Linked DNA regions of Homo sapiens. The protein of the gene in region 1 interacts with the protein of each later gene in a pairwise test. Each region holds a gene or a part of one and is shown in the gene's direction. Other genes may lie near its edges.

Region 1 (2,783 bases):
GAAAACATCTGAACAAGTGAGTTTGATGCATGGATTTGATTGCTTCTTGTCTTCCTTATGAAATATTCCACAATTTTTTTGGTAAACTGGTATATTTGCTATATCTGTCATTCAAAGATGCAGATAATTTTTAATGGTAATCTCTTATATTTGTAGTGCTTTTTAATGTGATTTTTATGACACTTTTTAAGACTTTCACATTATTATCCCTCTCATGCCTCATAACTCTGTGCGACTTTGCAGGGCAGCCAGTTCTATAGATGAGGAAATTGAGGCTTAGGAAAGTTATATTTGCCTAAGCCATATTGTATTGAGTGGCAAAGCAAACTAGAATATTGATCTTTGACTCCATATTCGAACCTCTTTTCTCTACATCATTTTTCTTACATTGCCGTCCTATCTTGCACTGCCTGCTGAGGTCAGTATAATTTATGTAACATTATTACATCTCTAAAGGTTTGTATTTCTTTCAAACACCATCAGAAACATCAAAATTTTTTGAAACATGAGCTGAAACATGAGAGTAACATATTGTTACTCTTTGAGAAAAGGGAGGATCCTCCTTTATCAAGTTAATGCCATGTTTTATGCTTGGATAAGGGCTTATCCACTTGGCCTTTGATCTTGTGACTGTCACCTGTAACTGAAAGAGTAAGTTACTTGTCTGACAACTTGTAAGCAACTAAAGATGTCAAAAAAAAAGTTTGCTCTATTTTGTCTGTACTGTGATGTATGTAATGAATGAACCTTTTTAGATTAGATGGGAAGCTCTAGAAATTCAAGGTACATATCTGTTTTACCTACAGTATACTTAATGCCTATCATAAGTTTCAAATTAATATGGATTTGAGCTTTGATTAAAAACTCAGTATTAATTAGCTGCCATCTAACAATATTTTTTTCTAGAAAATACTGTCTAACATATCTCTTGATTTGCTTTCCAGGTTGCGGAATATACGTTATGGTTTTAATACTATCCTTGTGATCCTCATCTGGCGCATTTTTATTGCAAGATCACAAATGGCAAGAAATATCTGGTACTTTGTGGTTAGTCTGTGTTACAAGTTTTTGTCATACTTCCGAGCATCCAGCACTATGAGATACTGAAGACCAAGGATTCAGCATTAGAACATCTATACATATGGTGATCTAAATGTACAAAATGTAAAATGTATAAGTCATCTCACTTTTTGTCAAGACATTAAACCATCTTAGATCGGAGTGTGAAGTAAATTATGGTATATTTTATGTAACATTTTAATGTTTATGCTCATAAAACTTAGTGAACACACTGTGTTATGCCAGCTCAAATCTACAGTAGCCACCAAAACCATGACTTAATATTTTGAGCCCTAGAAGAAAGGGGTGTGCTGAGGACAAGAGTGGGGAAATAGGAACACTGACCAGTATAACTGTGCAATTCTGGAACATATTAATTAAAATAATATGCCTTAACATATAGTGAATTTCTAATTCTAATGTTCAGTGCAATGGAAGACATTTATTTGGACAGTAATACTAGCAAAGTTGGTAGATATTTGATTCTTCATTTTTTGTTTTTTTCATTAGTTGAAGTGGGTTTTAGTTTTGTTTAAAATTATAACCAGCGTATTTTCACATCATTCTGTAAGTTAAATGATATCAAACATGAAAGAGATGTTCTCATTTTTCTTTTTCTGATTAAACGTCTGATGCATATCATTTTTCTATAAGTAATCAGTTGCTTTTAAAATCAGAAGGCTATATTATTCTAATGACCCTATTCGATCTAAATGGGTTTGAGAATCCATATCAGCAACATACGTGTTTTTTGACAGAAAGTGAAAACAAATTCCGTAAAACTGTTAGTATCAAAAAGAATAGGAATACAGTTTTCTTTTCCACATTATGATCAAATAAAAATCTTGTGAGATTGTTTATGTTTTGAAGCAGGAGGATTTCTTGAGATTTGATGGAAGTGGGAGTTGGGAAGGATTCACCATACTTGTGTTCTCCTCCCTTTATAAATTTTATTCATAGGACTTTTAAAAGGCTTGTGCTATCTTTCCAGTGAAAACTGAAAGTGCATTATTATGGAAGAATGTATTTGCAGGTAGTAATAGCATTAAAAAATATACTCGTGTGTAAACACATACTAATTTTGACCTTGAAAGATGAATTCCTTCAAGAAAAATAAAATAATGCTTAAGATAATGTGTACGAAATTAAATAAAGGACTTTATTTACATACTACATAAGGTAGCAAACTGTTGAATGAGTTTGAAGGTATCACTTATTTTTTATGCATGTGATTTTAGCTTTAGAAAGAAATGCGTTATAGAAACAAGTAATAGCAAGAAAATTGATGTATATTTTAATGATACATTAAAATTCCCTTTTAATCATAATAGTTAACTCTACTTACTGTTTTAACATACATTTGATTTAACAAATTGTTCAGCATAACACTTCTAATTAAGTTTATCAAGTTGTACTGTATTAGATAATCAGCAGTGTATCTGGAGTATGTTTAAAGAGAACAGTTCGCAATACAAAAAGTTACATGGAGCTTTACATCTTAACTTTCTTTGTCAATTTAAATGCAATGTATAAAAAGTTTATTTTGCTATTGTGAAAAACTAAATGTAAAGGAAATCACCTACTTTCATGCAGGTGTATAATCTTGAAAAGGAAAAATGCTTCCATGTTGAAGCCAGATTTTCTGTAGTAAAACTTTTAAATATTATTTTAAAAGAAATATGTATATAAATATCTCTATATTCTTTGGAATGATACTAAAGTCT
Region 2 (3,694 bases), on another chromosome or scaffold:
GGCTGCGGTCACAAAGCGTTACAAACTTTGAGTGGCTTTCCCAGCAGAGATGGCCTCTCTCCCGGCTCGGGGAATAGCAGTCCGAGAGGAAGGCGCAGGCAGGGCGGGCTTCTGCCAAGGACCGAGAAGGTGCCTCCGCTCGGGGCCTCTGTCCCAGCTTCTGCTCTGCTGCCCATCTGCGGGCTTCCCTGGCTTCTGCCACGGCAGGTCGGCCTCAGCCTCTGTCTCCACACGGCGCTCTCCCTCTGGGTGTGTCCGTGTCTCCGTCTCCCCTTTCTGTCAGGACACAGGTCACACTGCATTAGGGCCCACCCCTCTGCAGAATGACCTCATGCAGACCTAACTCATCACGTCCGCAATGACCCTGTTTCCAAATAAGCTCACACTCCGAGGTAGTGGGGATTAGGGTTCCCACATAGGAATTTCAGAGGACAGAGTTCCACCCATGACACTGCCTGAGGTAAGCTAAAGACCACGGCCTCAAGTCTTCCCAGGAGCCCCGTGTAGCATTGTTGTTGTTACCGTGAACTTCACTGACTCCAGGCCCCTGGCCTCCTCCCTGCACACAGCCCGCCTCCAGCCTGGCCGGCATTTTCCCAAAGTAGGCATTTCCTAGCTCCAGCGAGGACCATGGAGTCAGTGAATTGAGGAGCCTGAGGTCCATGATGCAGAGCCCAGGGGCCACTGTGGCATCTCTGGGCCACTCTGGCACCTGGGGAGGCAGTGGGGTCTGTACTGTCAGTCTAGAGACATAAAGAAAGTGCTTTTTGGGCCGGGCGTGGTCGCTCATGCCTGTCATCCCAGCACTTTGGGAGGCCGAGGTGGGCAGATCGCTTAAGCCCAGGAGTTCAAGACCAGCCTGGGCAACATGGCAAACCCCGTCTCTACAGAAATTTTTAAAAATACACAAATAAGCCAAGTGTGGTGGCGGTGCCTGTAGTTCTAGCCACTTGAAAAAAAAGGCTAAAGTGAGAGGGTCTCTTGAGCCCAGGAGGTTGAGCCTGCAGTGAGCCATGATCCCACCACTGCACTCCAGCCTGGGCAACAGAGCAAGGCCCCGTCTCAAAAAGAAAAGAAAGAAACTGCCTTTTGTCCCCAGTGACTCAGGAGGCCAAGGTGAGAGAGTCGCTTGAGGCCAAGAGTTTGAGACCAGCCTGAGTAACATAGCAAGACCCTGTCTCTAAAACAACATTTAAAAATTAGCCAGGCATGGTGGCGTGCATCTGTAGGCCCAGCTACTCAGGAGGCTGAGGTGGGAGGATCACTTGAGCCCAGGAGTTGGAGACTGCGGTGAGCTGTGATCATACCGCTGCACTCCAGCCTGGGCAACAGAGTGAGGTCTCGTCTCTTGAAAACAAAGTGCCTTTCAGGGCAGTTCCTTAAAGGGGGCTGACAGTTGACCCTGCACTTGGATTCCTGGTGAAGTGGGAGTCGGATGGGACTGAGGACGGCGCTGGCTGTGTTGGAACACACCTACTCATTCAGCTGTGGCAGAATAGGCCCTTCCTCTTGTGCTGGCACCATGTTCTCCAGGCGTGTCAGGGCCTGAGGACTGGGCCGGGGCTTGTCCATTCCTGTGTCCTGGGCCAGGCATTTAGCGAGAGCCAAATTTAGCTAGGGCTGTGGACGCTGGACCCCATCCCCCAGGCCCTGCTGTCCCTTATCAAGAGATCAAGAATGGCCTGCGTGCTGGCCTCGGGCATTGGGAGCCTCTCAAGGCTGGTCAGGAGGCCATAGGGTACGGGAAGGGGCCTGCGCTCTCTGGCGTCAGCGGCTGTTGCCCCTGCAGGTGGAGGAAGGCATGCATCTGCTCATCACAGGCCCCAATGGCTGCGGCAAGAGCTCCCTGTTCCGGATCCTGGGTGGGCTCTGGCCCACGTACGGTGGTGTGCTCTACAAGCCCCCACCCCAGCGCATGTTCTACATCCCGCAGAGGTAAGGAAGCCCGTGCGCCTCTCCTCCACCTCTTCCTGCCTGTGCGCTCACACATGGCTTCCTGCAGAGGCCCAGGAAGTGGTGAAGAGTCAGCACCTCAGGAGAGGACACTGAGGCACTGTCCCCAGAGCCAGAGACGGGCTGTGGTTCCTGCTCCCTCCAAACCCGCCCGATCCACTGCCCTGTTTTGGATCTGTGTGGGGTGTGTGCACGGGCGGCGATGTGAGCGTGTGGATGCGTGTGAGCGTGGCATGTGGACACTGCCTGGGAGGCGCAGAGTATCTTGGGGGAGGCAGAGCCGGCCCTTCCCTCCGTGGACACCCAGCTTTCCCACAGGCCCTACATGTCTGTGGGCTCCCTGCGTGACCAGGTGATCTACCCGGACTCAGTGGAGGACATGCAAAGGAAGGGCTACTCGGAGCAGGACCTGGAAGCCATCCTGGACGTCGTGCACCTGCACCACATCCTGCAGCGGGAGGGAGGTAGGAGGCCTGGGGCTGGCAGCCACCCTTTGTCCCACCCTGGCCTCTCCCTTGGCCTCCAGGGAGTGAAGATTACCTCAACATCCAGAGTCTAAAGTGCCAGGTGCCACGGGGCGGGGCAGAGGCTGCTACCAGGGAGGACCAACACCACACAGATGGCCCCAGGTGCTCTAGGGAAGGGGGCACCTAGCAGGGATGTGCACCTCACTGGGGGACCCAGGATACCCTCTCCCAGAGAAAAGAGGTCTGAGCTGAGCCCTGCAGAATGCTGAGTGGTTACCCCGTCCGGAAGCCAGGGGCAGCAGGGCGGAGTGCGTTCCGAAGGCTTGGTGGTGCGAGAGGCTGGCTCACAGAGGGCCCTCGGGACCAGGCGGGAGCCTAGGCTTTCCCTGAGCAGGATCAGACGCTCTTGGAAGGACCATGGGGTGGTGGGCAGGGGCAGCCTGGGAGGGGCAGGCACATGTGTGCAGTGATGGCTACTGTCAAGAGGTTTGTGCAGACGCTTGGAGGGGGCTGGGGCCAGCAGAGTCAGGTGGATTCAGAGATGAGTTCACTGAAAAGGAGGCCAGACTGAGCTGTTGTCTTGTCCTGGGCTTATCAAGGAATACTGCTTGTCCACAGTGTCTGTCGGGCCGGAAGAGCGGAGGAGGAGAGGGGGCTGCAGCTACAGGGACACAGTAGATGGAGTGTTCAGTTCTGTCTTTGAATTCTGAGCCTCTGGGTTCTGCTTCCAGCCTGCACTGCTGGGTGCGAGATGGCCCTGGGCAAGGACCTCGCCTTGCTGGGGCTCCCCTTCACGGTTCAAGGGCACGGGCACCAAGCCCTCCCTCGGTGGCAACATGAGAAGAAGTGGCTCCTGCAGGAAATGGCCGGGGTGTTGTCACCTGCCTGTGGAGGAAGCGGGGACACAGGTGGCAATGGCAGTGGAGCAGCCCCTGGCCCGGCCCTGCCTCTTGCTCCTGCTGCCCTCAGCCTGGGAGCACGTGGCCCCTCCCGCCTCTGTGGCAGCCTGAATGCCCAGGGCCTGTGGCCGGCCAGCATGAGCCATTAGGATGGAGTTGAGCTGCGAGGAACAGAACGGGCCTCCCCGCAATAGTGGCTAAGATCATCTGTGAGTTTATCCTACTGAGCTGTTAGGTCCCAAGAGAGCCAGGCCACGGTTGCCAGGGCTGGCCCTGCTCTGTGAAGGCCCCAGGGCTCGAGGATTTTCTACCAGGTCACTCTGCTGTGTTTGGCCTCCGTTCCCAAAGTCACCTCATGATCCAGGAGGGCTGCTG

Evidence for each region. The genes of interacting proteins can lie anywhere in the genome.
Region 2: the proteins of FAR1 (region 1) and ABCD1 come close enough for resonance energy transfer, tested with the Homo sapiens proteins (one large-scale study listed by BioGRID).

Annotation. Positions count from the first base shown.
Region 1 is NC_000011.10:13,727,668-13,730,450, forward strand, and holds part of FAR1 (fatty acyl-CoA reductase 1), read left to right. Parts: coding exon 1-16; intron 17-944; coding exon 945-1,107; 3' UTR 1,108-2,783. UniProt on the Homo sapiens protein: Catalyzes the reduction of saturated and unsaturated C16 or C18 fatty acyl-CoA to fatty alcohols. It plays an essential role in the production of ether lipids/plasmalogens which synthesis requires fatty alcohols.
Region 2 is NC_000023.11:153,738,303-153,741,996, forward strand, and holds part of ABCD1 (ATP-binding cassette sub-family D member 1), read left to right. Parts: exon of another isoform or gene 1-276; intron 277-1,789; coding exon 1,790-1,935; intron 1,936-2,271; coding exon 2,272-2,417; intron 2,418-3,694. UniProt on the Homo sapiens protein: ATP-dependent transporter of the ATP-binding cassette (ABC) family involved in the transport of very long chain fatty acid (VLCFA)-CoA from the cytosol to the peroxisome lumen.